Linked DNA regions of Homo sapiens. The protein of the gene in region 5 purifies or fractionates together with the protein of the main gene of each other region. This does not show direct contact. Each region holds a gene or a part of one and is shown on either strand. Other genes may lie near its edges.

Region 1 (4,726 bases), on a different chromosome or scaffold from region 5:
TTTTCTGGCTTTCATGTGACTAAAAGTCTTTTTCTTTTTTTAGAGGACAGAAGTTGACTTCTAAGACTATTAATTTTTAGAGTTACATTTTTAAATTAGCTTTAAAGATATGAAGCCCAGTGTTTCATTGCAACCCTAAACATACCATTTGCCATAAAATACTCATTTTTTGTTGCTGCTTAACCACTATCACTCTCTATTTACAAGGTGGGTATTTCTCTATATACATATATTAAGTAAAATAAGAATACTGTTCAGTTTATGTAATATTAATCATCACAAGTAGATACTTCTAAAACGTCATCTACAAACTGTATGTTAAGTAATTTTGCTGTCATCATAAAATCAGAGACATTTCCTATTGAAACATTTGACTGTTTTCATGTCATTTATGTAACTATTTTTAGTGTTTGTTTCATCATCTGTAAAATAAAGAAATTGGAGTAAATGATCTTTGAGATCTATTCTGGATTCAGAATTGTATATCTGATTGTAAAGCAAACATTCAGAGGTAAAAGATTTTTTGTAACAGTCATGTATTGTTACTGTACTCCATTTTCTAAATGTCATCAGTTTTCTATAGTATATAATCCTTTAATTATGAACCACACATTTTTGTTGAATCTTTCTGCCAAAACCTTGAGAGTTCTGAGAATTGGTAAAAATTACTACAGTTGTAATGCTTTACAGTGTCCAGTCACTCTAATTTTTGGAGAGCGAGCATAAGCAGAGTGCTTATTTTCACAGACATTGCAGACAGATATTTGGTTTCACTATTGGCCTTCCCACTTTCTAGTCATTTGAACTTGGCTAAGCTCCTTAGCCTCATTGTAAGCTTTTGTTTCTTCATCTCTATAAAAAGGAGTCTTAATACTACCTACTTACATCAGAGAGTCATTGTAATGACTAAATGAGGTAATAAATATATAGCCTTTTTAGTATAATGCTTGCCATTTGGTAAGTACCCGGTAAATATTTGGTATTATATTAATTTTAGTTTTAGTTTTAGTTTTGCTTTTATATTAATTTTAGGCTAAACTGGTGTTTTGGAGAAAATTCAAAATATAGTGGCTCCAATACAGTAGAACTATATTGACTTACAGGTCCAGGCTGGCAAGGTCCCTACGGTCCCTGATGTCATCAAAGGGTTCAGATGTCTTCTATCCTGTTAATCCACCTAGCTTGGCCTCCAGCCTGGTATAATGTCCTCTTGTATTTGGTCAAGACTGGGTCACTGCCACTTCTTTGCCCCACTCTGGAGGAAGTCCAGAGCAAATGCTTTCTTTCTATACCAGTGACTCACGTGTGTAGTACATAGCAAGTTGCACATATCACTTTTGCTTACTCTATTGGTAAGAGCAGCTAAAAGCTGTAATAGAATCTGGGAAATGTCTTTTTTTTCTGGGCAGCCATGTGCACAGTTAAAATTCTTAATCTGGAAGAAATGCTGGTATTTATAGGACAAGTTACCAAACAAATTCTGCAATAGCTATTTCTGCTATTATTACTGCTAGTAGCATTACTATTACTGCAGAATTACATTATACACCTACAGTATTTGTACAGTTTCAATTACATGCACTAAGGTAAGGGAAGAGTGGGCAGAGAAGAGAATGAATTTTTTTCTGCTTCATGTGAGATGAAATAGGAAATATGAGTGGTTCTCTGCTGAGTGTGATTCTTGTGTTTAAAGATAGATATTTTTAAACAATATACAAACCAATCACTTTGTCTGATGGTCAGGTAGGGTAATATCAATATAGTACAATTTTGGGAGAAGATTGGCTGAGCTGGACTTACTGATAGTGTGATCTTTTGAGATGCACCATCCTATGAGATTTTCAAAGATAATTTCACCTATTCCTAACTTTTGTCTTATTAGCTGTTTGGACAGTTTAACACATGGGTAAGATTTAACTACCACAGTACTAGTAAAAAATTAGTATACATTTGGAAAACTGCTGTCACTCAGCTGTTTAGTTTACTAGTTACAGCATATCAGACAGAGAAAGTTTTTTTAGTTAAGAAATGTATAGATGTTGAATTCCTTATAGCTAGGTTACAGAAAAATTGATATTCTAGTTTTGAGATAGTGAACATCTCTGTTGAAGGAAACAGAGAAGAACCATCAAGGGTGTCTTTTATCACCTTTTATCTCATACTCGTACAAGGAGCTAAAGGAGTTTTTAAGCAATAATAAAATATATTCTTTTTAAATTCAGAGTGAATTTAATCTAAAAGCTTTTCTTCTATCCCTTATTGATGTACTTTATTTTAAGCAATCCCAAACAGTTAAAAATAATTTTCCACTAAAAATAAATTAGGATAAATGCACTTAAACTAATTATTGCTTCACAAAAATAGTCACAAAATGATCTTCTCTTTCATTAAGTTTCTCTTGTGGATTAAAATGATTTTGTTGGCAAGATTTTTCTTGTCTTACTATTTTTAAGGAGCACATTTCTGTGCTAAAAGAGGCATAGCAGTGAAATGTTTTAGAATCTTAGATGAGACTTAGAGGTCACTTTGTCTAACCTAACTCTGTGGGCAAGAATCCGTTCTAGAACTATCTGCAGGGTGACCATTCAGTCTTTCTTTGAATGTTTCTATAATTCGGAGTGCATGCCTTTGTTCCTTTTATTTTTGGACCATTCTGTTCAACATAATGAATATTGTAAGGGTCAAACTCAGCATGTGCTCAGAGCAGTTTTTGCTTCTCAAAATTCTAACTAACCGACAGTCTGATTACTACCTGGGATTATGAAAATTACTGGAGTTCTGTCCTTTCACCATAAATCATGCCTTAGGAATTTAGAGGTCATTTTCTAACTGTCTACCCAGGGCACAAGTTTCTTCCACAGCCTTCTGATACCATTCCAGTCCTAGCACAAAACAGGTGTTGAATAAACATAGATTGCTGAATGTGATTTTTGTCTACACTGTTGCTCTTAACAAAGTGGGTGCTCAGTGTTTTGAAGAATGAGTTGGGATTGCAAAGCCTCAAGTAGCTAGGGATTTGGAGAACCAGACCTAATCTGAGCCTGAAAAGCAAAAGCAGACATGGAGATGAGTTGTTATTACCTCAGACTAAGTAAAGATCCATCAGAATGATAAATGAGAGTGAGAGCAGCGGGCATGATGGTAAAACTTTCTCTGTGATCTTGAGAGGAACCACTCTCATCTTTGTGTTTTTATACACAATGGAACACTTGGACATAGTAAGTAGTGGTATATAAAAGATCCTTGGAAAATGCTTCCATATTTCTGTTAAATAATACACAGAGAAATCTTTGACCAATTAGGTAAAAATTATCAGAATTGTTACTCTTCAATATAAGAAACAATGCATTATAAAATTTTGTTAGATTTATTACTGTTGACACTATTATCTCCTATACTAGCAATAAAATAAACATGAGAAATGTGAGAATAGTGTCTTTTTTCCCAGTCTTTTAGTCTGGATTAATTGAATTCTGGAGTTCTGTATAGATATTACAGCTTTATTTCTGTGTAGTATATTTGTTTTTCTGCCTTTGCAGGAGCTGTAAATAAGGTTGACTGGATATGTCTCATCTGGTATTACAACCAATTAATGTGGACTTGAGATCTTGGCTGCCCAAAGGTTATTTATAACTTTCAGGCATATTCTGGTAGAATGCTGGATGTCAAGGGAGAGGATGTCATGTTATATGAGATGTTCCTGGACACATGGTCTTGATTGTTGTTGTTGTTGCTTTTTTGGAGACTACATTCTCTTGCCCAGCTGGAGTGTAGTGGTGCAGTCAGATCTCACTGTAACCTGAAATTCCTGGACTCGAGTAATCCTTCTGCCTCAGCCTCCTGCGTAGCTAAGGCTCTGGGCATGTTCCACAATGCCTGGCCTTTAAAAATTTTTTGTAGAGCTGGAGTCTTGCTATGTTGCCTAGGCTAGTTTCAAACTCCTGGCTTCAAGCGATCTTCCTGCCTTAGCCTCCCAAAGTGCTGGGATTACATATGTGAGCCACCACACCCATCCCAGTCTTGGATTTTTTATGTTATTTTTCATAATGAAAAGCAAAGGATTGTTTGGGATCTATAGGTATCATATATTAGAGATTGCATATATAGGTTTAGATTTGAGGTTTGGAATTTATAGGCTTAAGATTTTTAACTCTTGGCCGGGCACGGTGGCTCATGCCTGTAATCCCAGCACTTTTGGAGGCCAAGGCGGGCGAGTCGCAAGTTCAGGAGTTCAAGACCAGCCTGGCCAACGTGGTGAAATCCTGTCTCTACTGAAAATACAAAATATTAGCTGGGTGTGGTGGCGGGCACCTGTAATTCCAGCTACTCGGGAGGCTGAGGCAGGAGAATCACTTGAACCCGGGAGGCAGAGGTTGCAGTGAGCCGAGATCGCGCCACTACACTCCAGCCTGGGCGACAGAGTGAGACTCCGTCTCAAAAGAAAAAAAAGAAAAAGGGACATTTTTTGCTGTGGATCCACACCTGTAGGACTCTGCCATGATCCTTTTTACCAGGAGGTCTTCCATGTAGGTATTTCACTTTCAAGGGACTTTTTGGAGTAGGGGTTATAATTAGTTGAGCGGTTATGGACCCTTTTGAAAATTTGATGAAAACTGCAAGCATTTTACCTAGCAAAGTATGTGTACACATTGACATATCTTTATATACAGCTTAAGAGAAATACATTTTTATTGACCTCTTGGAGGCCATCGTTCTAGGACATAAT
Region 2 (4,726 bases), on a different chromosome or scaffold from region 5:
CTGTATTTTCCCAGTCTGAGTAGTTGTGAATTCCACAACAATGCAGCTAAAGGAGAAGAGAATAAGTATTATTTCTCACAAAAACCAAATACCTGAAGTTCCATGTACTACAGAGCTTTAAAATAAGCTACTCTAGACCAGTGATGTCCGATACAACTTTCTATAATGGAAAGTCTGCATGATCCAATATAGCAGCCACTAGCCACATGAAGCTCTACTGAGCACTTAAATTGTGGCTAGTGTGACTAGAAAACTGCATTTTAAATTTTAATGTAAACAGCCAGACATGGCTAGTGGCTCCAGAATCTCCATATGAAAAGTACATTGCCAGGCCGGGTGCAGTGGCTCACGCCTGTAATCCCAGCACTTTGGGAGGCCGAGATGGGCGAGTCACCTGAGGTCAAGAGTTCAAGACCAGCCTGACCAACATGGTGAAACCCCGTCTCTACTAAAAATACAAAGGCTGAGGCAGGAGAATCACTTGAACCCGGGAGGTGGAGGTTGCAGTGAGCCAAGATCGCGCCACTGCACTCCAGCCTGGGCAACAAGAGTGAAATTTCGCCATCTCAAAAAAAAAAAAAAAAAAAAAAAAAAAAAAAAAAAAAAAAAAAGAAAAGAAAAGTACATTGCCTATAAGCGGTAGTTTCTAACTAAGGAAAATCTTCATGTCTTACATGTTAAATATCTGGTTCCATGTTAAATATTATTTCCAATGACAAAGTATTTAAAATATTTGGTCTTAAAAATTTTGAGATTTGCTTTAAGATAATGAAGCAAAAAGTAAGTAGGGGCAATAAGACTGACGAAAAGTTGATATTACTGAGGCAAGGTCGGGGTGCAAACATCTATTACACTATTCTTTCTACCTTTGTGTGTATCAGACTGTCCATAACAACTTTTTTTTGACAGTTTTTCTGTTGCCTTTTCTTATCTTGTTTTCTAAAGGTATATATAGACCTCCCACCTCCCCTGGAGTCAATCTGGACTCCCACCTTTCCTGTGACACATACCTCTCTCTTGCGTCATCACCCCTTTGGCTAAGTACTTTGGGAGAGTACAGACTGGGGTCAGGGAAGGGGAAATCAGATGATAAAAAAAAGTTCAAGATGTTTCTCATCTGGCTAGGTGATGAAATAAACTTTTCAAGGGTGAAGGTTGGGGAAAAATATTGGTCACATCAGGATAGCCATGTATGTGAAGAAACATGGCTAATTTACACAGAAATAGCAGTTAGTTTAATGTTGACCCAATCGTGATTGGTCCTCAAAAACAAATCTGCCTCAAGAAAGCTCACCTGTCTCTGTACATAATCAATAGCCCGGCTAGCAGCATCAGGGTTGGTTCCATTGTAGGTCTTATACACTTTCTGAATGCTGCGATCAACCTCATTTTCCACCTGAATCAGAACAAAGAATTCAGTCCCTCAAAAATACTAGTAAAAGTAACATTAGTCAAGGCTCCTACTAAAATACTTAAATGAAATGTTTGCAAGTTGCCAGATATCTATGAATTTCCTGTAAAGTTTTCTCCCTTCCTGCCTTCATCTTCATATAGATATAGATGAAGGCAGGAGGGAGAAAAGTGACAGGTAAAAATTCAGACATATACCACATACATTCAAGCATTCAAAGAGAAGATTGTGTGCAAAATGGCAGGCTAACAATGTATTCAAAAGGGAGAAAAGTTGAGGCTTGGGATAGATGTCCTAAATTATAAATGGATGCCTTCCTTTTACAAATAAGTTACTCATTTTCCTTTCCTAAAGGAGGTAAAACAAAGTAACTCTGAAGCTCCTGTAAGATACTTTTAGGACAAATGCCAACATTATTTCCATTTTATTTATTCAACGTTTAGAGTTGGCTAAATGTGCAAAAGTAATCGGCAGGTTTAAAAAAATCAGTCCTTAGAAATGGCACTTTATGAAAAAGCTACTGTTCAATGTATTGCAAAAAGGAGACAGGAAACAAGCTTCATAGCTTATTGCTGCCAATTACTAAAATGGCAAGCAAGTATCACTTAGTAAAGTTTGCTTGTACCAGATCCTCCTTACCCCTCGGAGGACTGGACTTATCTGGTAATTACAACAGTAATATCATAAGTCCATAAAATTGATAACCAGATCATAGGTAGGGACATAATCCATTGCATTTTTTTTTTAGCACAGCTTTACAGTACCTTACGTATCAATGATCTGAAAATTAACTTGGCATATTATGCCCTTGACTCAAAACCATTAAGTTATAATGAGAATGAGTCTATTATGTCTTTACCATGCCTCTAAAATTATACCCATATTAATTAATTTAAAGCAGCCTGTTTAGCCTTAAGTAGTACTACAGGTAGACAGCAAAATCAGGCAAAATAGAAAGGAAGGAACGGTGAAATGATTAAAAAGAATGAAGGGCAAGAAAGGAGTGCTGGCACCAGCTGCCTTGGTGTTCTAAGTTGGCAGGACCCCTTGTTCCTCAGGACAGGGGTGGAAGGTGGGATCACAACTCACAACACCTTTTTCTATGTTTAGGACCAAAGCATTTTTTAAAGAGACAATGGAAAACGCAATTCTGAGTTTGGTTCTTCTAAAGCAGAAATCAGAAAATTATGCCTCCCCTCATATAGGCAATCTGTGTGCTGAGGAAATCTGAACAAACTTCTCAGCTAATTATTCATTTGCAGCTATAAATACCTATAATCAAGAACAATACATATATAACACTCTGCTATATTAAATGAGGTAAGGAGTCTTGACATGTAAATATTTGCCAATTAACTTTAGATATTTGAAATACAGATTAAACAAGTAAGGCAAAAGAAAATGTTTACTCTGATAAAATGAATGTGTTCTATTTTACTTGAAACACTTAAACCACCTTTTAAGGCATTATGTGAATTACAGTAGACAACATACCTTTGCTCTGTAAACATATCCCAAAACCACTACAACAACTTCTGTGACAAAAACCAAGAGCAGGATGATGACAAACTGTAAGAAAACATGGTTTAAAATTATATACAAATGAAAAAATAACTTTAAATACACTCTTGATTTAAAAAAAGTTATCAGAGATAATTGCTAGAAGTTTAAATGTTAACTCTGTTCCAACTATAAGAGCCAAGGAGTCTCATGTTCAAGGAGAGTAGCATAGACTAAATACTCCTGCATGTTCTCACAACACATCTTACCGTGGCAAGTCCACAGCGACTTTCCCGGATTGTGGCACAGCAGCCAATTAGCCCAATGATGAAAAGCAGGGCTCCTACAGCTATGATCACTACAGCAGGGATGAGCGTGTACACATCTTCAAAGAAGTGGTCATAGTCATCATAAGTGATGAAGACATAGGCTCCCACATAGCATAAAATGCCAGCTGCCCCCTGTAGAAAACAAAGTCAGTACTGGTCTCTAAGCACTGCTGGTAAAAATTTCCTATTATTGCTTAGTATGGTATAATTTAATGAGAGTTACCGTAACTGTTATAGACTTTTTTCAGTAAAGCTGAAAATTCTATGATTCCTTGTTAAGAGCATTTCTATACTAGATAAAATTAAAAAGTTATCCACACTTCACCTACTTTTCACGAATTGATGGTTCAGCTAGGACCAAGAAACCATAACCAAATAATAACAATGATGATGACACACACCTACACATCCCTAAAGGCTTACTGTAGCTCAATTCCACATCCAATACGGATCAGTATGGTGGTAGGGGGATCTTTGCTCACTACAGTTGCCCTCAATAAGTGGGGAAATTTGGTAGAAATGACAGAGCTTGGATTTGAACTCAGGCAATCTGACTCCAGAATCTACACTTCTAATCTCTATCTACCCCACCTCAAGGAAAAGAAAATACACCAACTAGTAAGCATGATACCCACCCCACTTCCAAAAATCTTGCTGTCCTAGAGACAGTGAAATGGCAAAGCTAGAGGGCTCAGTCATTAAAGAACACTGCAAGTCCTCTATCAATTCTTTAGAATGGTGGTTCTCAAACTTTGAAGTGAATAGGAATTGCCTGAGGATCTGAATAACAAGCAGATTGATTCAGGAGGTCTGAGGAGGAGCCTGAGAGTCTGCATTTCTAACAAGTTCCCAGGTGATGCTGGTGCAGCTTCTTCTTGGAGCGCACTCTGAGTAACAAGGTATTAAAGACCTAAAGGGAAAGTGAACACACAAAGACAAGTGATAGGTGTGTCTTATTTCAGCTGCTGCTCCAGGCATCATTCTCCAGCTGCAGAGTCTTACTTTCTCCGCTATTGTCAATTTTGCTATCTTTGGGTACCAGCTCTGTGCTGACAGCCCAATGCCACTGGCTCATATACAAACAAGCAAATGCAGTGTCAGAGTAAGTGTTAAAACATTTGGTTATCACTTGGATAACAATGAGTTATCATTTGTAGAGTACTTTGAAACTTTCACAAGAAGTATTTCATCATCCTTTAAAATTTAACATATAAATCATCTTCAAACTAGAAACAGCTGCCACAGTGATACTGGAAATATCATTAACTTCTCTGAACCTGAAAACCCAGATCATTTAAGTTTATGAAATTCAGTAAGCTTGGGGATCATCAGTATATTTTTTTACACTAGGCCATTAGGATCACTGTCAGATGAGGAAGAAAAAGACTCCATTTATGTAAATTTGGGAAAGTAATTTGATTTTTTAAAATGTAACATGAACTTTTTAAAGTGAGAAGACAACTAGAATAATGAAGGCAATTTTTAA
Region 3 (3,500 bases), on a different chromosome or scaffold from region 5:
TATTTTTGTACTTTTAAAGAAAGCAGCTTGCATTTAATTAGAAAGAATGGACCTAAAGGGAACCTCGTTGTCAGGGAAATGAATTAGAACTGGTTATAATACACAGGAGTTATAAAAATTGTTTCTCTTGGGTAGGACCTCTCAACCTTGAGACTTGGTGTTTTGGGCCAAATTAATTCAATAGTGTGGGAAGCCCTCCTGTTCTTTGTAGGATGTTTAGCAGCATCTCTGGCCTCTTAGCCCATTAGGTGGTAGTAGCACCCCCAATTGTGACAACCAACAATGTCTCCACAAATTGCCAAATGTCCCTTGCAGGGCAAAATCATCCCAGTTGAGAACCAATGTCCTGAGATGCCTAGAAATGTGTAGAAATGGGATTGCTGAGCTGTAGGGTTTAACAATGTTCAGCTACACTAGTAATGCCAAAGTGGCTTTCTGCAGAGGTTGTGCCAATTTATACTCTAACCAGCTATGGTTAAGAACTTCTTTTGCTCCACATTTTCACCAACATTTTTTATTTTCAATTTGACTTTTTACTTTTTGCTGATCAGATTTGTCGTTGATATTATTTCCTTCATTACTAGTGTGGTTGAAGATCTTTTCAGATATTTGACTATTGAACTTTCATTTTCTGGAAGTGTCAAGTCTTTTTTATCAACTTTTTTCTGTTAGATTATTTGTCTTTTTTCTTCTTGATTCATAGACATTCTTTATATATTCTAAATTCTAAATTCTTTTCCTCCTCCAGTTTTACCTTGGTTTTTCCCCTCCCCTCTGTCTATGGCATCTCAATGAATAGAAGTTCTTAATGTAGATGGCATGTGGCTTGTGTTTTTTGTGTCTTGGAAAATCTTTCCTTACACTGAGATCATAAAGATATTTTTCTGTATTGTCTTCTATAGTGTGCGATAGGCATTCAATTCCCTTTTTCTTTTTTTTTTTTTTGCCATAGGGAAATCAGCTATTCTAGCATCATTTATTGAACAGAGTCTCTTGTCCCTACCAATTTGCAGTACCACCTGTCTTATATATCAAGTATTCATTAGTGTGTTTCTGGCCACTTAATTCTGTTTTATTGGTTTATTTGTGTATCCTTGTGCCAGTGCCACCCTGTTTTAATTAATGTAGTTTTATGTGTCTTGATAACTGATAGGGTAGCTTCTTCCACCTTGTGGTCTTTCTTCAGAAATGTTTTGGCTGTTCATGGACCTTTCCACTCCTGTATGCATTTTAGGATTTGCTCATCAAGTTTCACAGAAACTCTGTTGGTCTTTTTATTGGGAATTAATTGCTTCTATATAGACAGTTTGGTGAGAGTCAGCACTTTTGCTATACTGAGTTTTCTTATCCACCAATGGGATATAATTTCAACATATTTTGTAGTGTCTTTCATTAAAATTTTATTGTTTTCTCCATAAAGATCTTATATACTTTATGTTAGATTTATTCCTAAGTAGTTTATATTTTTTGAAACAATTATATGTGGTATTCCTTAAAATGTTTTGCTTTGTTATTGCTGGTGTATTTTTTGTTGTTTTTTTGTGTGTACATACATAGCAATCTAGATGGCTCTTAATCTTCATGTTTTTCTGGACATAAATTTAGATTTTCAACAACACAATTATCTGTGTATAATGACAGTTTGTTTCTTCTTAGCCCTTTTATCTTTTAAAAAATCCTTTTCTTCATTGGCTAGGACTCAACGACCAGTTTTGTATCTTGTTCTTTGTCTTAGAGGGAATACTTTGTTTCACTAAGTATGATTTTACATTAGGTTTTTTATAGTTTTTTTATTTGTTTAAGGAAGTTCCCATAAATGTCTAGTTTGAGGTTTTATCATGTTGAATTTTAGCAATGTTTTTTCCTCTACCCTTGGAGATAATATAGTTTTTCTTCTTTAATATTAATATAGTATACAAATCAATTTATTTATTTTTAATAAATCAATTTATTTATTTATTTTTAATAGAGATGGGATCTTGCTGTGTTACCCAGGCTGGAATGTAGCGGCTATTCACATGTATGATCATAGTGCACTGCAGCCCCAAACTCCTGGCTCAAGTAATCCTCCCACTTCCTCCTCCCAACTCACTGGGATGCAGGTGCACACCACTGCACCTAGCTCCAGCTCCAGTTGATACTTTTAAATATAAAACCAAACTTAACTTTCAGTTTGCTAATATTCCCTTTAGGATTTTTGCATTTATTTAGTTAATTTAATTTTTATTTATTATTATTTTTATTATTTTGAGACAGGATCTCACTCTGTCGCCCAGGTTGGAGTGCAGTGGTGGGATCTCAGCTCACTGCAGCCTCAATCTCCCAGGCTCAAGCAATCCTCCCACCTCAGCCTCAATAGTAACTGAGACTGCAGGCACACACCGCCATGCGTAGGTAATTTTGTTCATTTTTTGTAGAGACAAGGTCTCACTATATTGCCAGGCTAGTCTTGAACTCCTGAGCTGAAGGGATCCTCCTGTGTTGGCCTCCCAAGTGCTAGGATTACAGGCATGAGCCACCACACCTAACCTTTTGCATTTATTTTATAAGCGAAATCGGCCTGCGATATTGTTAGGTTTTAGTATTACAGTTATATTAGCCTTATCAAATGAATTGGAAAGTATTCCTTCTTTTTCTGTTGTGTTAATTAATTGGTGTAAGACTGAGATTATTTATTTCCTGAACGTTTGCTAGAACTCTGTGCTAAAACCATCAGGACCTGGGGTATTCTTACTGAAAGGTTTTAACTATTGATTCAGTTGGCTTTTCATTTCTTCTTGAATCTGTTTTTGGTAAGTTACGTTTTTTTCCCCAAGAATTTGTCAATGTCATACACATTTTGAGGGGTTATACTTATTTAATTTCAGGAAAATAATGTAGGGGTCACAGCTGAAACTTTCAACGCAACCAAACATTAGTTATTCATACCAACCCTGCAAAAACCAATGCTTGATCATGCATACTGTGTGAAGAATATCAGTATCTGGCATATATTGAATCCTTACCCTGTTTCTGGCACTGCACTAAATGCCTGCTTTTTAAAACAGCTTTAATGAAGTATAATTCACATGCAATAAACTGCACGATAAGTATTGTGCAATTGATAGATTTCAGTATCTTGTACATTTTAAAATTTGATGGCCTAATGTTGTTTATATCTGTCCCAGGGAACCACTTTTGGTTATGCTGATCCTCTCTAGTATGTTTATTTCCTCTTTTGTTAATTTTTGCTTTCTTTGGGTTTGTTCTGCTGTTTTTATAGTTTTTAAGATGGATATACAACTCATTAGTTTTCTTCCTTCCTGCCTTTCATCTTTAATGTAACCAAGGCTATAAATTTCCTTCAGAATACTGCCTTAGATATCATCCCACATTTGGATATATACTTAATTTATTTTTTGAATTTTAATATTTTATTTTTTATATTATTTAAAAATTTTTTGTAGAGACGAGTTCTCACTGTATTGCCCGGGCTGGTCTCCAACTCCTGGACTCAGGCA
Region 4 (4,726 bases), on a different chromosome or scaffold from region 5:
GCGCACCTGTAATCCCACTACTCAGGAGGCTGAGGCACGAGAATTGCTTGAACCCGGGAGATAGAAGTTGCAGTGAGCCAAGATCATGCCACTGCGCTCCAGCCCGGGTGACAGAATAAGACCCTGTCTCAAAAACAGAACAAAGACTAAAACGTTTTGGAACTAGACAGAGGTGATGATTGCACAACATTATGAATGTACTAAATGCCACAGAATTGTCCAGTTTAAAATGGTTAATTTTATGTTATGTGAATTTCATCTCAATTTCTCTAAAAAGGTGAGTTGATCTTAAAGTATTACATGTGAGGTACACAGGTGTGTGTGTGGGTGTTACGGTACAGGAAATGACAAAAACTTGAACACCCCTGTTGTAAGCCATCCCTCTTGAGGGAGTGGGGACTTTGAAGACCTGAGAGAAGTCCAGGCACAGTGGCCCATGCCTGTAATCCCAGCACTTTGGGAGACCGAGGTGGGTGGATCATCTGAGGTCAGGAGTTTGAGACCAGCCTGACCAACATGGTGAAACCCCATCTCTACTAAAAATATGAAAAAATTAGCCAGGCGTGGTGGTGCACGCCTGTAACCCCAGCTACTCGGGAGGCTGAGGCAGGAGAATCACTTGAACCCAGAGGTTGCAGTGAGCCGAGATCGCGGCATTGCACTCCAGCCTGAGCAACAGGAGCAAGACTCCATCTCAAAAAAAAAAAAAACCTGAGAGAAGCCCCTTGGTCCCAGCCTTTCTCTGACAGCAGTGGTGACAGGCTCAGCTCTCCTCCGAGTGCAGCCCTGTCACTGACCTTGCTCCTGTCTCAGGGCTGGGAAGACTGTTGATGTTGTCATTCCAAAGATCCCACCTGGATCAGGGGAACATCCCCCACAGAAGGGTTAGCCATACAGTGCCAGATTCTCCAGGAGAAATTCACCAAAGAAATGGAGTCCCCTTGGGGACAGATTCAACTTGTATTGTCAGCCAGGAGCTGACGTGGCACTTCTGAGAAGAGGCCGGCGCACCTGCTGGCGGGTGCTTTGTGCACTTTTCAGACAGGTCAGGATCCAGCCTGTAGGCAAATTTACTTTTGCTTTGACCTGTAAAACCGGATCTGCCCAGCCTTCATTCTCTCCCTGGAGAACGCCTGCGGCCCCAAAGCCAGGCCTACTGATTTCCAGTGAGGCCACAAATCCCCTCCCTGGTTAGCAATTCAGTTTTCACCGCCTTGGGGGAGAGGGCCTGCCCTTCCTTGAGGGGAAGAACCTGGAAGGCTCGGCTCAGTGTCTTCTCTTGGAAGAGAAGAGTGTGCATGCAGAAGGGTGTAGAAAATGCTAGACGTGTTTCATCTTCTTGACAAAATGACATTGTAAGATGTGTGTATATGTTTTTAAAAATATTACATAGGGGCTGAACATGGTGGCCCACTCCTGTAGTCCAGCACAGGGAGGCGGAGGTAGGAAGATTGCTTGAGGTCAGGAGTTCAAGACCAGCCTGGGCAATGTAGGAAGACTTCATGTCTACAAAAAAAAAAAAAAAAAATTTCATTAGCCAGGCATGGTGATGCATGCCTATAGTTCCAGCTACTTGAGAGGCTGAGGTGGGAGAACCCCCTGAGCCTGGGAGGTCGAGGCTACAAGAAGCTGTGTTCATGCAACTGTACTCCAGCCTGGGCAACAGAGCAAGACCCTGTCTCAAAAATATATATAGGCTGGGCGTGATGGCTTATGCCTGTAATCCCAGCACTTTGGGAGGCTGAAGCAGGCGGATCACTTGAGGCCAGGAGTTGGAGACCAGCCTGACCAACATGGTGGAACCCTGTCTCTACTAAAAATACAAAAAAAGTTAACCAGGCATAGTGGCTCACACCTGTGTAATCCCAGCTACACGGGAGGCTGAGGTGGCAGTGAGCTGAGATCGCGCCATTGCACTCAAGCCTGCACTCGAGGTGACAGAGTGACTCCATCTCAAAAAAAAAAAAAAAAAAATATATATATATATATATATACACACACACACACACAGACACACACACACAATACATATATATATGTGTGTATATATATATATATAACATGGTTATGTGAGTATTTGTATGTATTTTATTAACAGTAATGTTATCATTGTTTTTCAGACCTGCTTTTTTAAAGGCTGCAGAAAACTTCACTCTTTTGGTTAAGAACAACATCTGGTATCCCAAATTTAATTTCAGCAAGTAAGTGGTGGCCAGGTGTGTGAGTTCACCAGGGTCTTGGAGAAACTTCTGGCTCTTCTCTCTTCTCTGAGGTTTTCGTCGCTCTGATTTTCTGCTTCCTCTCGACTTTAGGAGGAATATCCTTCCCAACATCACCACTACTTACCTCAAGTCGTGCATTTATGATGCTAAAACAGATCCCTTCTGCCCCATATTCCGTCTTGGCAAAATAGTGGAGAACGCAGGACACAGTTTCCAGGACATGGCCGTGGAGGTGGGTGCGGGCCCTGGCTCTCCTGACCCAGCCCTGGAGGCGTCTCGTGCCAGGTGCTGAGGAAAGCCTTGCCGTGTCTCTGCTGCTCATCCCCAGGGAGGCATCATGGGCATCCAGGTCAACTGGGACTGCAACCTGGACAGAGCCGCCTCCCTCTGCTTGCCCAGGTACTCCTTCCGCCGCCTCGATACACGGGACGTTGAGCACAACGTATCTCCTGGCTACAATTTCAGGTGGGCGTGAGCTTGGGCCCCTCGCTCATGTTGTAGGGGGTGCTGGTGGCTGCGTACGTGCCAGTGGGCCGCCCACTGAAGACCAGCACTCAGGCAGCACCCCAAGGGCAGGCTGCCGGTCCCCCGTCCAAGGCGGCGGGAAGGCCATGCTGGGAAAATGCCCTTAGTGGTGTCCTGCTCCGGGGCCATCCCGGCCCCCGAGACCCCTCCTTGCCCTTTCCTGCCGCAAGAAACATGTTGAGATGGTTCTTAGAGCAGCCAGGAGAAGCTGGGGGCTTAAGCTTTCCAGCACCTGCCTCAGCCATGACCTCCATTCACTGCCTCAAGGAGCGGATGATCTTGTGATCCTCCAGTCCAAAGGCCTCTGGGGCCTGGCCCAGGAATTGGTTTCTCAAAGGTTGAACCTGTGCCAGAATCTCCAGAGTGCAGGGGACACAGGTCTGAGGCCCCTGAAAGGCCTTGCTGGGTTCCCTGCTGCAAATGCTGGCATCTCGGTGTCCTGGGGCAGATGTAAGCGAGTCCCACAAACAGTGGCTTGCAACTACAGGACTTGATTCTCTCACAGTTCTCACAGTTCTAGAGGCCACAACCTAAAATCCAGGCATCAGCAGGGCTGTGCTCGCTCTGAAGGCTCTGGAGAGAGTCCTTACTTGTCTCTCCTGGCTTCTGGTAGCCCACGGTGTTCCTTGGCTTGTGGATGCATCACTCCAGTCTCTGCCTCTCCTGTCATGAGGCCTTCTGCCTTGTATGTGTCTCTGTGTCTTTTCTTCTTGTAAGGATATCAGTCACTGAATTTAGGGCCCACCCTACTCTAGTATGACCTCATCTTAACAAATTACGTCTGCCAATATCCCATTTCCAAATAAGGTCACACTCCCAAGCTTCAGGTAGATGTGAATTTTTGGGGACACACTGTTCAACCCACTACAGCTGATGATCTCATGATCAGAATCTATAGCCAGGTAAATTTCCACGTACCCTTTGTTGCATTTTTCACAGTCCTTAAAAAGGAAGCGCTCCAGGCCGGGCGCAGTGACTCACACCTGTAATCCTAGCACTTTGGGAGGCCAAGGCGGGCAGATCACCTGAGGCCAGCATGGCGAAACCCCATCTCTACTAAAAAAAATACAAAAATTAGCTGGGCATGGTGGCGCATGCCTGTAATCCCAGCAACTTGGGAGGCTGAGGCAGGAGAATCGCTTGAGCCAGGGAGGCAGAGGTTGCAGTGAGCCGAGATCGCACTGCTGCACTCCAGCCTGGGCGACAAAGCAAGTCTCCGTCTCAGGGGGAAAAAAAAGAGGCCCTGCAAGGACCATCCCTGGGCGCGGTCAGCGGTGCTTTGGGCTGCACTTGCCTCCCCCTAGTGGTGACGTGTGGAATCCGATCCATACGGGATCCTAAGACCTCTGTAATTGTGGGATCTGCTGTCCTTTTGAACCTTCTGGCTCACTGAGTAAAGCAGATATTTGAATTTTTCTTTTCTAGCAGTTAGATTTGTGTTATTCCATCTCTACTGTCACACACTTCTTGTGGAAACCTCAAGCTTAGGTCAGAGCCCTAAAACGGAAAGAACTCAGGACGCCTATCCCCCAACCTCGGGCAGCACCAGGCCCTGCCTGTGTCTCCCAGGCCTGGCCCATGGCGTGGAAGTTGTGGGCCAGATAGAGCATGGAGCTAGGGTGCGGGCCGAGGCTCCTGATGGATCCCTGGAGAACATGGGGCAGCAGATGGTATGTCTTGACGGTTCTTCACCAACCATCCATCCCCTGCTCATGCGTGTGCGCTCTCTCGCGTGCTCGCTCTCTCTCTCTCTCATATATGTATATGTATATATGTGTATATATATATATAGCCATTATATATATAGCCATTATATATATATATTTTTTTTTTTTTCTTCTTTTTTAAGGGAGTGACTTGCTCTGTCACCCAGGTTGGAGTGCAGTGGTGCGATTTCAGCTCACTGCAGCCTTTGCCTCCCGGGTTCAAGACATTCTCCTGCCTCAGCCGCCTGAGTAGCTGGGATTACAGGCGCCCGC
Region 5 (4,499 bases):
ATCGCTGCCTTGGGTGTTGTATTTTTGGTTGAAGACAAAAGTTGAGCTGGAGATGATGACTGACAGCCCCCACACAACAAGGCAGATGATTTTGCTGCGCGGTAGTGTTCTGGATCGGAGCCGGAATGACTTAGTCGCCTGTACAATGGCGATGTACCGGTCCATGCTAATGCAAGTCAGGAGCAGCATCCCGCAGTTAAAGTTGATGGCATAGATGCCTTTTAGCAACTTGCACGTGGCATTGCTGAAAACCCACGCACCGGTGGCATGACTCACTGCCCAGAATGGGAGAGTAAGAACAAAGAGGATGTCTGCAATGGCCATGTTCAAGAGATAGACGTCTGTCATAGACCTGGCCTTCTTATAAAAAGCAAAGGTGATCACCACCAGAATATTCCCCAGGAGGCCAAAGACACAGATCAAGGAGTAGGCAATCGGTACAAATAGCCTGGAGAACTGCCTGACCTCCTGCAAGGAGCACAGTAACATCTCAGAATCAACTGAGTAATATGAAGTATTGACTGACACAAAATAATCTTCACTGGAGTCGAAAACATCGCTGAAATTCATTGATTCCTGGAAAGGAAACAAAGATAGAGTTAGCTGCAGTGTAGTGTTCAAGTAGCCACAGTGAACCCAAATTATACCCCTTGCCAAAAATAAAAATCTTACCCCGCTCATTGTGGGCAGAAAAAATGCAAGCTGGTTGTAGAAAAAGGAGTGTATGGTTCAGCCCCTTCAGCTCACAGGCAGCGGTAGCAGGAAAGTAGAGGTGACTCTAAGAAGGAAAGAAGGCAAAATGCACTACAGTTAACACAGGTATTCCTGGAGAGCCAGACAGTTAAGTTACCAGCATTCCATCTCGTGTGAACAGAGTGCACAGCACACTATTTTACATACAAATATTCATTGAGAATAGGCATCAGCAACCTCTTTCTGTAAAGGGCCAGATAGTAAATATTTTAGGGCTTTTCAGGCCATATGGTCTCTGTCACAGCTCCTCAAATCTGCCTTTGGAGCTTGAAAGCATCTACAATTACATAACTGAACAGGCCTCGCCGGGGTCCGTTGGCTAGAGGCTATAATTTGCCAACCCTTGATCTATTGGTTAAATAAGGTGCTCTCAGAAATCCACAAGTTTTGATCTGCACAAAAATCTTTACGCAAAATTTAAAAACATTCAACAAGATTTTACTGAACAAAATCTATAGAAGTGTGAAAGCGCATAGAAAATGTATAATTCATAGTCCCGGGCTTTAAATCGTTCACAATATATGTCAGTGATGATCACCCCTGTGGGCATGTGAGAATCTCCAGTAGAATTTAAAGTTTGACTATGAGTGCTGTTCTCAAGACACACTGAACAAGCTGCTCCAGCCTGGGAAGGCGCTGGAGAGGAATGCACCTGCTTCTCCACAGCCGCAGACCTTTCCAGTAGACATTCCAGGTCACAAGCATGAATCTGCTGTGGCAGAGGCATCCTAATCATCAGAAATCCAAATGCCAGAGGAAAGGTGGAGGCTGGCACAGTTAGGAAAGACTTCCTGGAGGAGGAGGCTCTGATCAGGGTTCTTGGAGAATGGTGAGGCTATGGGCCAATGATTGACAGAGAACCGCCATCTCCTTCAGGTGACCAGCTCGTCTCAGGCTGAAGAGCAGTCCTGAGTCATGAGCCCTGTATGTTTGTGAAACAGCTGAGCAACCAGCCTGGCCGAATCAACTGGATTGTCAGGAAACAATGGAGTATACCGTGTGCTGGGAACGCCAGCAGTGGCGGTGCATGGGTCCAGGCTGAAGAAGTTTAGCAGGAGACCGGGAAGAGCTGGAGCGGTTGTGGAGCGCCTGAGGACGAAGGGCTTTGAAATCCACCATCTGAAGCAAACTTAAAAAGAAAGAAAAACCCTTCGCTATTCTCAGGCTCACTCCTTCTTTCCAGCATTGTCCATCATCCTGTTTATTAACACGCCCTGGACGTCCCCCAGTAAAATCCATGGCCTGAAACGCTCTGATATTGACGTTGGATGTGCTTCCCAGCCAATCGCCCATCTTCCTCCTCTTTTCCCTGCTCTCGCACCACGTGGGCCTGGCCATGCCAAGCGGGAGCAGCTAGGGAAGTGCAGCCCCAGGTGCACAGGCAGAGAAAGTGGAACTGCCCTCCTCGCCCCCACACTGTGTCATATCAGTCCTCACTTACGAGTCCACGTGGATACTGACCTTTTGGAGAGGAAGCCCATGTAACACAAAGTTCACCCTGAATTATTTTCCAAACCTATTTCTTACATAATTTTGATTCTCATTTCATTATTTACTCCACCCCATTCCTTCCCTGATGCCTGGAGTCACAACTTAGAGATCGGTTCTTCACTGCCCCTCAGTCACTGCTTTGGGCCTAAAAAGCTGGAGGAAGGTATGGAGTCACCTCTGCACTTTTGTAATCCCAGCAGGTATACAGTTGAGTGCTTTAGAGTATGCAGAAGAAGCGTGGTATAGACCCCTGTGTTGCAAAAGCATGTGACGAGGTAATCGTATCAATCAGAAGAAGCACAGCAATCAGAACACCACTGCTAAACTTCAGCTTCCAGCCACGGTGGATCAACAGAGACCAAAGGCACCCTGCTGCATTAAACAACTAGAAAAACCTACAAAATGTAACAACCATTTTCAGACCTCGGCACTAGGCATCACAGGATTATGGATCCTGGCAGGAGGAGAACAAATACAGTGAGAAATGATACACACTCTTTCTAAGCTGCAGAGCATGGCAGGGGTGGAGGGCATGGGAGGTGAAATATACAATATGTAAAATAAAATACACCAATTGGAATTACCATTTGGATGTTAAAACTATATATATATATATATATATATATATATATATATATACACACATATATCATATATAATAGTATCAATAATTATATATACAATTGTATCATAAAATGTAAAATACTTATGGATAGCTCTAACAAAATTTATGTGAGATTTATATGCTAAAAACTACAAAACATTGTTGGCAAAAATTAAATAAGACCTAAATTAATGGAGAAATTTATCATGTTCAATTTTCAATGACATTTCATGTTCAAATTTATCAAAGATTCAATTTCAAGATATAATTTCTCCCCAAATCGATCTGTAGATACAACATAAACTAAATCAAAATTATGGTAGGGTTTTTTTTTTGAGAAATTGACAAGTCAATTCCAAAATTTTTATAGAAATTCAAGGAAATTAAAATAGCCAAAACAATTTTGAAAAAGATAAAAAAAAAATGGAGGACTCACACTACCCAGTCTCAGAGCTGACAAGGAACTACACTAACCATGACGGTGTTGGATTTCTGAAAGGACAGTTACATAAATCACTGGAACAGAACAGAGGCCAGACATAGATCCACATATAGATGGCGGACTGATTTTTAACTTAGGTGCCAAGGTAACTCAATGGGAAAAGAACAGTCTTCAGTAAATGGTCCTGGAATGACATGAACAAAAAGTCGATCCTTACTGCTTACCTCACACCATTTGCAAAAGGTAACTCAAATGAGTTATAAATCTAAATGTGAGAGCTAAAGCATAAAACATCTAGAAGGAAAAATGGGAGAAAATCTTTGTGACCCTGGAAAAAGAAGCTTCTTATATAAATTGCAAAAAGAATGAACTGTAAAAAAATTGATAAATTGTACTTGATTGTACAAAATGTAAAACTTCTGCTCTTTGAAAGACACTCAAGAAAGTGAAACATATATATATTGAATAGAAAAAAGTATGTTAAAGCTTATATCTGATAATAGGTTATATCCAGAATATACAAATAATTTTTACAACTCCCTATCAAAAACATAAACAATAAGAAACAGGGGGAAATGTGAACAGGCAATTCACCAAGGAAAATACATGGATGGCAAATACACACACAAAAAAGACGCTCAATGCCATTAATCATGAGGAAAATGCAAATTAAAACCACAATGAAGGCTGGGAACAGTGGCTCAGGCCTGTAATCCCAGCAATTTGGGAGGCCGAGGCAGACGGACCACTTAAGTCCAGGAGTTCGAGACCATCCTGGCCAACATGGTGAAACCCCATCTTTACTAAAAATACAAAAATTAGCCAGGCGTGATGGCGTGCTCCTGTAATCCCAGCTACTTGGGGGGCTGAGGCAGGAGAATCAGTTGAACCCGGGAGGCGGAGGTTGCAATGAGCTGAGATTACGCCACTGCAGTCCAGCCTGGGTGACAGAGAGAGACTCCGTCCAAAACACACACACACATACACACACACACACAGACACACACACAGAGATCCCACTGGAAGGACTAAGATTAAACAGGGGGCTGGAAGCTGGGAGAGGACATGGTGCATCTGGGGCTCTCACACTTTGTTGGTGGGACTGCAAGATCACACAGCCACTCCAAGGAGACAGTGGGGTCCTTTCTTGCACAGCTGAACATGCATCCACCATGGGAACCTGCAACCGACTCCTACATGTCTACCCAA
Region 6 (3,655 bases), on a different chromosome or scaffold from region 5:
CCTTGCCTGACTGCCTCCCACACCAATTCAAACAATCTCTGAGTCCATCAGTGTAGTTGTTAAAAGCTCCCCAGGTGATTCTAGCATACACTCAAGGTTGTGTTTGAGAGGGACAGAAAGCGCCTCTGCCAGATGGCTGCTGTCTGCCGCAGGGATGATTCTAGAGACACCGTACCCATCCTGCCCAGGCTTGAGGGCTCAGTCACCCAGCCCGAGAGAGGTCATTTTTTAATAGTGTTTTTCCCATTCATTATGATAGGTGAGGTAGGTGCCTGGAGAGGAGGTTTTGGGGGAAGGGATGAAGGGGAGGAGAGAGCTTAGAGGACTCTGGAGAACAAAGTCCATCTCCACTAACTTCACAGGTTCTGCCACCAGGGTGAGGGTGAGGGGCAAGTCTTTGTTCCCAACTAGTTCCGGGCAGGCTGAGAGCCAGAATGACCACCAGGAGCAGCCAGCCCCACAGGCGAGCAATGAGGGCCTGCTTTAGCTACAGTGGGGCTCCTGAGTGGGAGGGGTACGTACATGCGCTGTATTAAGCTCAGAGCCCTCTGAAACCCCCTTCTCACCGGTCACCTTCCCCACTCTAGCAGCGGCTAACAGAGGAGCTGCAGACAGTGGAGAATGGTTACCATGACAACCCAACACTGGAAGTGATGGAGACCTCTTCTGAGATGCAGGAGAAGAAGGTGGTCAGCCTCAACGGGGAGCTGGGGGACAGCTGGATCGTCCCTCTGGACAACCTGACCAAGGACGACCTGGATGAGGAGGAAGACACACACCTCTAGTCCGGTCTGCCGGTGGCCTCCAGCAGCACCACAGAGCTCCAGACCAACCACCCCAAGTGCCGTTTGGATGGGGAAGGGAAAGACTGGGGAGGGAGAGTGAACTCCGAGGGGTGTCCCCTCCCAATCCCCCCAGGGCCTTAATTTTTCCCTTTTCAACCTGAACAAATCACATTCTGTCCAGATTCCTCTTGTAAAATAACCCACTAGTGCCTGAGCTCAGTGCTGCTGGATGATGAGGGAGATCAAGAAAAAGCCACGTAAGGGACTTTATAGATGAACTAGTGGAATCCCTTCATTCTGCAGTGAGATTGCCGAGACCTGAAGAGGGTAAGTGACTTGCCCAAGGTCAGAGCCACTTGGTGACAGAGCCAGGATGAGAACAAAGATTCCATTTGCACCATGCCACACTGCTGTGTTCACATGTGCCTTCCGTCCAGAGCAGTCCCGGGCAGGGGTGAAACTCCAGCAGGTGGCTGGGCTGGAAAGGAGGGCAGGGCTACATCCTGGCTCGGTGGGATCTGACGACCTGAAAGTCCAGCTCCCAAGTTTTCCTTCTCCTACCCCAGCCTCGTGTACCCATCTTCCCACCCTCTATGTTCTTACCCCTCCCTACACTCAGTGTTTGTTCCCACTTACTCTGTCCTGGGGCCTCTGGGATTAGCACAGGTTATTCATAACCTTGAACCCCTTGTTCTGGATTCGGATTTTCTCACATTTGCTTCGTGAGATGGGGGCTTAACCCACACAGGTCTCCGTGCGTGAACCAGGTCTGCTTAGGGGACCTGCGTGCAGGTGAGGAGAGAAGGGGACACTCGAGTCCAGGCTGGTATCTCAGGGCAGCTGATGAGGGGTCAGCAGGAACACTGGCCCATTGCCCCTGGCACTCCTTGCAGAGGCCACCCACGATCTTCTTTGGGCTTCCATTTCCACCAGGGACTAAAATCTGCTGTAGCTAGTGAGAGCAGCGTGTTCCTTTTGTTGTTCACTGCTCAGCTGATGGGAGTGATTCCCTGAGACCCAGTATGAAAGAGCAGTGGCTGCAGGAGAGGCCTTCCCGGGGCCCCCCATCAGCGATGTGTCTTCAGAGACAATCCATTAAAGCAGCCAGGAAGGACAGGCTTTCCCCTGTATATCATAGGAAACTCAGGGACATTTCAAGTTGCTGAGAGTTTTGTTATAGTTGTTTTCTAACCCAGCCCTCCACTGCCAAAGGCCAAAAGCTCAGACAGTTGGCAGACGTCCAGTTAGCTCATCTCACTCACTCTGATTCTCCTGTGCCACAGGAAAAGAGGGCCTGGAAAGCGCAGTGCATGCTGGGTGCATGAAGGGCAGCCTGGGGGACAGACTGTTGTGGGAACGTCCCACTGTCCTGGCCTGGAGCTAGGCCTTGCTGTTCCTCTTCTCTGTGAGCCTAGTGGGGCTGCTGCGGTTCTCTTGCAGTTTCTGGTGGCATCTCAGGGGAACACAAAGCTATGTCTATTCCCCAATATAGGACTTTTATGGGCTCGGCAGTTAGCTGCCATGTAGAAGGCTCCTAAGCAGTGGGCATGGTGAGGTTTCATCTGATTGAGAAGGGGGAATCCTGTGTGGAATGTTGAACTTTCGCCATGGTCTCCATCGTTCTGGGCGTAAATTCCCTGGGATCAAGTAGGAAAATGGGCAGAACTGCTTAGGGGAATGAAATTGCCATTTTTCGGGTGAAACGCCACACCTCCAGGGTCTTAAGAGTCAGGCTCCGGCTGTAGTAGCTCTGATGAAATAGGCTATCCACTCGGGATGGCTTACTTTTTAAAAGGGTAGGGGGAGGGGCTGGGGAAGATCTGTCCTGCACCATCTGCCTAATTCCTTCCTCACAGTCTGTAGCCATCTGATATCCTAGGGGAAAAGGAAGGCCAGGGGTTCACATAGGGCCCCAGCGAGTTTCCCAGGAGTTAGAGGGATGCGAGGCTAACAAGTTCCAAAAACATCTGCCCCGATGCTCTAGTGTTTGGAGGTGGGCAGGATGGAGAACAGTGCCTGTTTGGGGGAAAACAGGAAATCTTGTTAGGCTTGAGTGAGGTGTTTGCTTCCTTCTTGCCCAGCGCTGGGTTCTCTCCACCCAGTAGGTTTTCTGTTGTGGTCCCGTGGGAGAGGCCAGACTGGATTATTCCTCCTTTGCTGATCCTGGGTCACACTTCACCAGCCAGGGCTTTTGACGGAGACAGCAAATAGGCCTCTGCAAATCAATCAAAGGCTGCAACCCTATGGCCTCTTGGAGACAGATGATGACTGGCAAGGACTAGAGAGCAGGAGTGCCTGGCCAGGTCGGTCCTGACTCTCCTGACTCTCCATCGCTCTGTCCAAGGAGAACCCGGAGAGGCTCTGGGCTGATTCAGAGGTTACTGCTTTATATTCGTCCAAACTGTGTTAGTCTAGGCTTAGGACAGCTTCAGAATCTGACACCTTGCCTTGCTCTTGCCACCAGGACACCTATGTCAACAGGCCAAACAGCCATGCATCTATAAAGGTCATCATCTTCTGCCACCTTTACTGGGTTCTAAATGCTCTCTGATAATTCAGAGAGCATTGGGTCTGGGAAGAGGTAAGAGGAACACTAGAAGCTCAGCATGACTTAAACAGGTTGTAGCAAAGACAGTTTATCATCAGCTCTTTCAGTGGTAAACTGTGGTTTCCCCAAGCTGCACAGGAGGCCAGAAACCACAAGTATGATGACTAGGAAGCCTACTGTCATGAGAGTGGGGAGACAGGCAGCAAAGCTTATGAAGGAGGTACAGAATATTCTTTGCGTTGTAAGACAGAATACGGGTTTAATCTAGTCTAGGCACCAGATTTTTTTCCCGCTTGATAAGGAAAGCTAGCAGAAAGTTTAT
Region 7 (4,726 bases), on a different chromosome or scaffold from region 5:
GAGCCACTGTGTCTGGCCAATCTATTTCTTAAACAGTGACATGGATTTGGATTCAAATTGTGTATCAGGGTTGCTGTGCATTTGCGTAAATGCTCTTGTATATAATCTGCATTTTCAGGAGTAGCAACATCAAGGTGGAATCCTGAAGTTTAGAAACTCTTGAGAAGCACAGAGAGATGGAGGAGCTTCCTGAAATAGAACTAGGGGCTGGGGGATGGCAGCGTGAGGGCTAAAGTGGGTGGGTGGTTAAAGGAAGAAAAAAGTAATATGTAATGGGTCAGGCTGTCTGCTGGACACTTGAGATAAATAGGGCTGTTTTAATCCTTACAACAACCATGTGAGTTTTTGGAGTTAATTCTCCCATTTTAGGGGCCAGATGTGGTGGTTCAAGCCTGTAATCCCAGCACTTTGGGAGGCCAAGGTGGGCGGATCACTCGAGGTCAGGAGTTCGAGACCAGCCTGGCCAACATGGTGAAACCCTGTCTCTACTAAAAATACAAAAATTAGCCGGGTGTGGTGGTGGTGCCTGTAATTCCAGCTACTGGGGAGGCTGAGGCAGGAGAATTGCTTGAACCCAGGATGTGGAGGTTGCGGTGAGTCAGGATTGTACCACTGCACTCCAGCCTGGGTGAAGAAGCAAGACTCCATCTCAAAAAAAAAAATTCTCCCATTTTATTGACAGGGAAACAAAGATTCACTGATATTAATGTGTTCGTGGTCTTGGAGGTTGTGAGAGGAGGCAGTTTTGAACCGGATCCACCCATTTCACCTAATGGTTCTAGGCAATAAAGCTGTGGAATGGTTGGAAGATTTGTGGTTAAAAAAACCAAAAACGATGCCACATGTCATAGGGGACAGAATGCAGTTATTTCTGGGGTCACTCAGCGAATGTTGCGAAGACGTGCAGCTTATTTTTGGAGGAATCTCCTGGCTTCAAAGTTCTTTTCTCTCTTGAGAAAGTTACCACATCCTGATGTTGAGAAAACTTTTGAAATGGTGTAGTTAGGAAACAAGGCATTTCACCTCCATTGCTGGAAACCATTTTATGACATCATGCCCTTTGCTTATGGCTGAATGGAGCTCCTCTTGTGGTGAAATGGCAGGGATTATTTGTTAGGAGCCAGGACGCAGGAGTCCATTGAGGAGCTGGGTTCACACCCAGGCTCTGCTGCTTACTAGCTGTGTGATCTTGGGAAAATAACTTTACCTCTCTGAGTCTCAGTTGTTTCATCTGTAAAATGGGAATATCAATAATTATGTATCTCATAGTTTTTTAGTCCATGTAAAGTTTAGGAGAATAAGTGCTCAGTATGCCTTAGGTGTTTACTAGGGCTAATGGTAATCCTTAGGTGTTTGCATGAGGTTTACCGTTGGGGTCTACAGTGTGCTTCTTTGAGAGGAGGGGCCTTTTATGAGAAATTTAGAAATATGAATTTCACTGCTTTTTCCTGATCAAATTTAGGAAAATGAATAACTATGTAGAGCATTCTGTCCAGGTATGTCGAGGCCCTGGTGTGATGTTGTGGCAAGGATGGGAGCTTAGGTACCAGGTGGCCCAAGACTTTGCCTCATTGTAACAATCTACGTTTTGTGGGTGGCCACACTGGATGAGGATGCTTTGATGCTTGATATATTTGGATTTGGGGGACTAGGAAGTTTTGAATATGAATCAGATTGAGAAAGAAGAACTGAATAGATATGTTGTCTACCACAATGTTTTAAACAGCTTTATTGAAGTATAATTTATATAGCATACATCTATTGAAAGTATGTAAACTGGCCAGGTGCGGTGGCTCATTCCTGTAATCCCAGCACTTTGGGAGGCCAAGGTGGGCGGATCAGGAGGTCAGGAGATCCAGACCATCCTGGCTAACACAAGTGAAACCCCATCTCTACTAAAAATACAAAAAATTAGCTGGGTGTGGTGGCGGGCACTTGTAGTCCCAGCTACTCAGGAGGCTGAGGCAGGAGAATGGCGTGAACCCAGGAGGCAGAGCTGGCAGTGAGCCGAGATCGCGCCACTGCACTGTAGCCTGGGCGACACAGCGAGACTCCATCTCAAAAAAAAAAAAAAAAGTATGTAAACCATTGATTAAAAAAAAACCAGGTGTATGGAGTTATGCAACCATCACTCCGGCATGGGTTTTGAATGTTTCCATCACCTCCGAAAGTCTCCTCCAGCCCATCTGCAATTCATCCCTGCCCTTGCCCCAGTCCCAGGCAACCAGTGATCCGCTTTCTGATTCCATAGGTTTGCCCTTTCTGGAAATTGTCTATCAATGGAATCACACCACGTGTTGCCTTTTGTGTCTGGCTGCTTTAATTTAGCATGAAGTTTTTGAAGTTTCTTTTTATTGTGTAATAGAATTTCAGTTGGGCTTGGTGGCTCACACCTGTAATCCCAGCACTTTGGGAGGCCCAGGCAGGAGGATTGCTTGAGCCCTGGAGTTCAAGAGCAGCCTGGGCAACATAGTGAAACCCTGTCTCTACAAAAAATAAATAATAATAATAAAAAAAGCCAGGCATGGTGGCTTGAGCCTGTGGTCCTTGCTACTTGGGAGGCTGAGGTAGGAGGAGTGCTTGAGCCCAGGAAGCGTAGGTGGCGGTAAACCCTGATCATACCGCTGCACTCCAGCCTCGGCAACAGAGTGAGACCCTGTCTCAAAAAAAAAAAAAAAAAAAAAAGCCATTTGTGGATATATCACCTTAAATCTTTTTGTTTGTTTGTTTTTAGACAGGGTCTCGCTCTTGTCACCCAGGCTGGAGTGCAGTGGCATGATCTCTACTCACTGCAACCTCCACCTCCCGGGTTCAAGCGATTCTCATGCATCGGCCTCCTGCGTAGCTGGGATTACAGGCTCCCGCCGCCACGCCCAGCTAATTTTTTTTTTTTTTTTGAGACAGAGTCTTGCTCTGTCACTAGGCTGGAGTGCAGTGGTGTGATCTTGGCTCACTGCAACCTCTGCCTCCCGGTTCAAGCAGTTCTCCTGCCCCAGCCTCCGGAGTAGCTGGGACTACAGGCGCATGCCACCACGCCCAGCTAATTGTATTTTTAGTAGAGATGGGGTTTCACCGTGTTGACCGAGATGGTCTCGATCTCTTGACCTCATGATCCGCTCACCTTGGCCTCCCTAAGTGCTGGGATTACAGGCGTGAGCCACCATGCCTGGCCTAATTTTTGTATTTTTGGTAGAGACGGGGCTTCACCGTATTGGCCAAGCTGGCCTTGAACTCCTGACCTCAAGTTATCTGCCCACCTTGGCCTCCCAAAATGCTGAGATTACAGGTGTGAGCCACTGACCCTGGCCCGGCCCAGTGTTATCACAGGGTCCTTAAAAGCGAAAGACAGGCAGGAGAGTGAGTGTCAGCATAAGAGAAAGATTGGGAGAGGCTGCACTGCTGGCTTGAAGAGGGAAGAAGGGGCCATGAGCCAAGGAATGCGGGGGACTCTAGAAGTTGGAAGAGTTAAGGAAACGGACTCGGTTGGAGCCTCCAGAAGGAACACGGCTCTGCTGACACCTTCCTTGATTTTAGTCCCATGAGGCCCATTTTGGACTTCGGACCTAACTGTAGGGTAATAAACTTGCATTGTTTTAAGCCACTCAAGTTGTGCTAATTTTTTTTTTTTTTTGAGGCGGAGTCTCGCTCTGTCGCCCAGGCTGGAGTGCAGTGGCGCAACCTTGGCTCACTGCAAGCTCCGCCTTCCGGGTTCGCGCCATTCTCCTGTCTCAGCCTCCCGAGTAGCTGGGACTACAGGCGCCTGTCACCACGCTCGGCTAATTTTTTGTATTTTATTAGAGACGGGGTTTCACCGTGTTAGCCAGGATGGTCTGGATCTCCTGACCTCGTGATCTGCCCGCCTTGGCCTCCCAAAGTGCTGGGATTACAGCCGTGAGCCACGGCGCCCGGCCAAAGTTGTGCTAATTTGTTACAACAATGAGGAGAAGCTGTCACACACCGATGTGTGCTGCAGACCCTGGGAACGGATTGTCGTGCTCCTCTTTCCATCCCACAAAGGGGACTGGAATCTAGACAGGAAGCCCGCCACCTGGGTGGAGGCATCAGAGGCATTTCAGAGGTCCTACATTTTGCCTGAGAGCATAGAGCTTATGTCAGCATGTTTATGTGACTCATTATCTGACGGTGGAGGAAAAAGATGAATATTTATTTAGGACCTGCAGTGTTTTGGCTCTGAACTCATGTTTCCTCTTTCATGCTGCACAATGGCCCTTTGATGTTGGTAATTTTTTTTATTCTTGCTTTACTGATAAGGAAACAAAAATGCCCTTTCTCTTTGATGTGATGGAGGTGGTGTTAGGTAGGACTCTCATTACTCTCAGGACTTACATTCTTGTTTTTTATTTTGAGACGGAGTCTCACTCTCACTCAGGCTGGAGTGCAGTGGCGCAGTCTCGGCTCACTGCAACCTCTGCCTCCTGGGTTTAAGCAATTCTCTGCTTCAGCCTCCCAAGTAGCTGGGACTACTACAGGCCTGCGCCACCACCACGCCCAGCTAATTTTTGTATTTTTAGTAGAGACAGGGTTTCACCATGTTGACCAGGATGGTCTTGATCTCTTGACTTTGTGATCCGCCTGCCTCGGCCTCCCAAAGTGTTGCGATTACAGGCGTGAGCCACTGCACCTGGCATTTTTTTTTTTTTTTTTGAGACGGAGTCTTGCTCTGTCGCCCAGGCTGGAGTGCAGTGGCGTGATCTTGGCTCACTGC

What was found.
Region 1: the proteins of CCR6 (region 5) and LCLAT1 purify together in Homo sapiens (affinity purification with mass spectrometry; one large-scale study listed by BioGRID and IntAct). This does not show direct contact.
Region 2: the proteins of CCR6 (region 5) and TSPAN3 purify together in Homo sapiens (affinity purification with mass spectrometry; one large-scale study listed by BioGRID and IntAct). This does not show direct contact.
Region 3: the proteins of CCR6 (region 5) and GOLGA5 purify together in Homo sapiens (co-immunoprecipitation; 2 studies listed by BioGRID and IntAct, with this or other methods). This does not show direct contact.
Region 4: the proteins of CCR6 (region 5) and P2RX4 purify together in Homo sapiens (co-immunoprecipitation; one large-scale study listed by IntAct). This does not show direct contact.
Region 6: the proteins of CCR6 (region 5) and PODXL purify together in Homo sapiens (co-immunoprecipitation; 2 studies listed by BioGRID and IntAct, with this or other methods). This does not show direct contact.
Region 7: the proteins of CCR6 (region 5) and ATP9A purify together in Homo sapiens (co-immunoprecipitation; 2 studies listed by BioGRID and IntAct, with this or other methods). This does not show direct contact.

Annotation. Positions count from the first base shown.
Region 1 is NC_000002.12:30,526,829-30,531,554, forward strand, and holds part of LCLAT1 (lysocardiolipin acyltransferase 1), read left to right. Parts: intron 1-4,726. UniProt on the Homo sapiens protein: Exhibits acyl-CoA:lysocardiolipin acyltransferase (ALCAT) activity; catalyzes the reacylation of lyso-cardiolipin to cardiolipin (CL), a key step in CL remodeling.
Region 2 is NC_000015.10:77,052,884-77,057,609, forward strand, and holds part of TSPAN3 (tetraspanin-3), read right to left. Parts: intron 3,373-4,726; coding exon 3,181-3,372; intron 2,981-3,180; coding exon 2,906-2,980; intron 1,397-2,905; coding exon 1,295-1,396; intron 47-1,294; coding exon 1-46. UniProt on the Homo sapiens protein: Regulates the proliferation and migration of oligodendrocytes, a process essential for normal myelination and repair.
Region 3 is NC_000014.9:92,800,805-92,804,304, forward strand, and holds part of GOLGA5 (golgin subfamily A member 5), read left to right. Parts: intron 1-3,500. UniProt on the Homo sapiens protein: Involved in maintaining Golgi structure. Stimulates the formation of Golgi stacks and ribbons. Involved in intra-Golgi retrograde transport.
Region 4 is NC_000012.12:121,226,413-121,231,138, forward strand, and holds part of P2RX4 (P2X purinoceptor 4), read left to right. Parts: intron 1-2,120; coding exon 2,121-2,201; coding exon of another isoform or gene 2,202-2,205; exon of another isoform or gene 2,206-2,216; intron 2,217-2,312; coding exon 2,313-2,454; intron 2,455-2,550; coding exon 2,551-2,687; intron 2,688-4,726. UniProt on the Homo sapiens protein: ATP-gated nonselective transmembrane cation channel permeable to potassium, sodium and calcium. CTP, but not GTP or UTP, functions as a weak affinity agonist for P2RX4.
Region 5 is NC_000006.12:167,132,317-167,136,815, reverse strand, and holds part of CCR6 (C-C chemokine receptor type 6), read right to left. Parts: intron 779-4,499; 5' UTR 682-778; coding exon 673-681; intron 577-672; coding exon 1-576. UniProt on the Homo sapiens protein: Receptor for the C-C type chemokine CCL20. Binds to CCL20 and subsequently transduces a signal by increasing the intracellular calcium ion levels.
Region 6 is NC_000007.14:131,501,441-131,505,095, reverse strand, and holds part of PODXL (podocalyxin isoform 1 precursor), read left to right. Parts: intron 1-587; coding exon 588-785; 3' UTR 786-3,655. UniProt on the Homo sapiens protein: Involved in the regulation of both adhesion and cell morphology and cancer progression. Functions as an anti-adhesive molecule that maintains an open filtration pathway between neighboring foot processes in the podocyte by charge repulsion.
Region 7 is NC_000020.11:51,760,665-51,765,390, reverse strand, and holds part of ATP9A (probable phospholipid-transporting ATPase IIA), read left to right. Parts: intron 1-4,726. UniProt on the Homo sapiens protein: Plays a role in regulating membrane trafficking of cargo proteins, namely endosome to plasma membrane recycling, probably acting through RAB5 and RAB11 activation. Also involved in endosome to trans-Golgi network retrograde transport.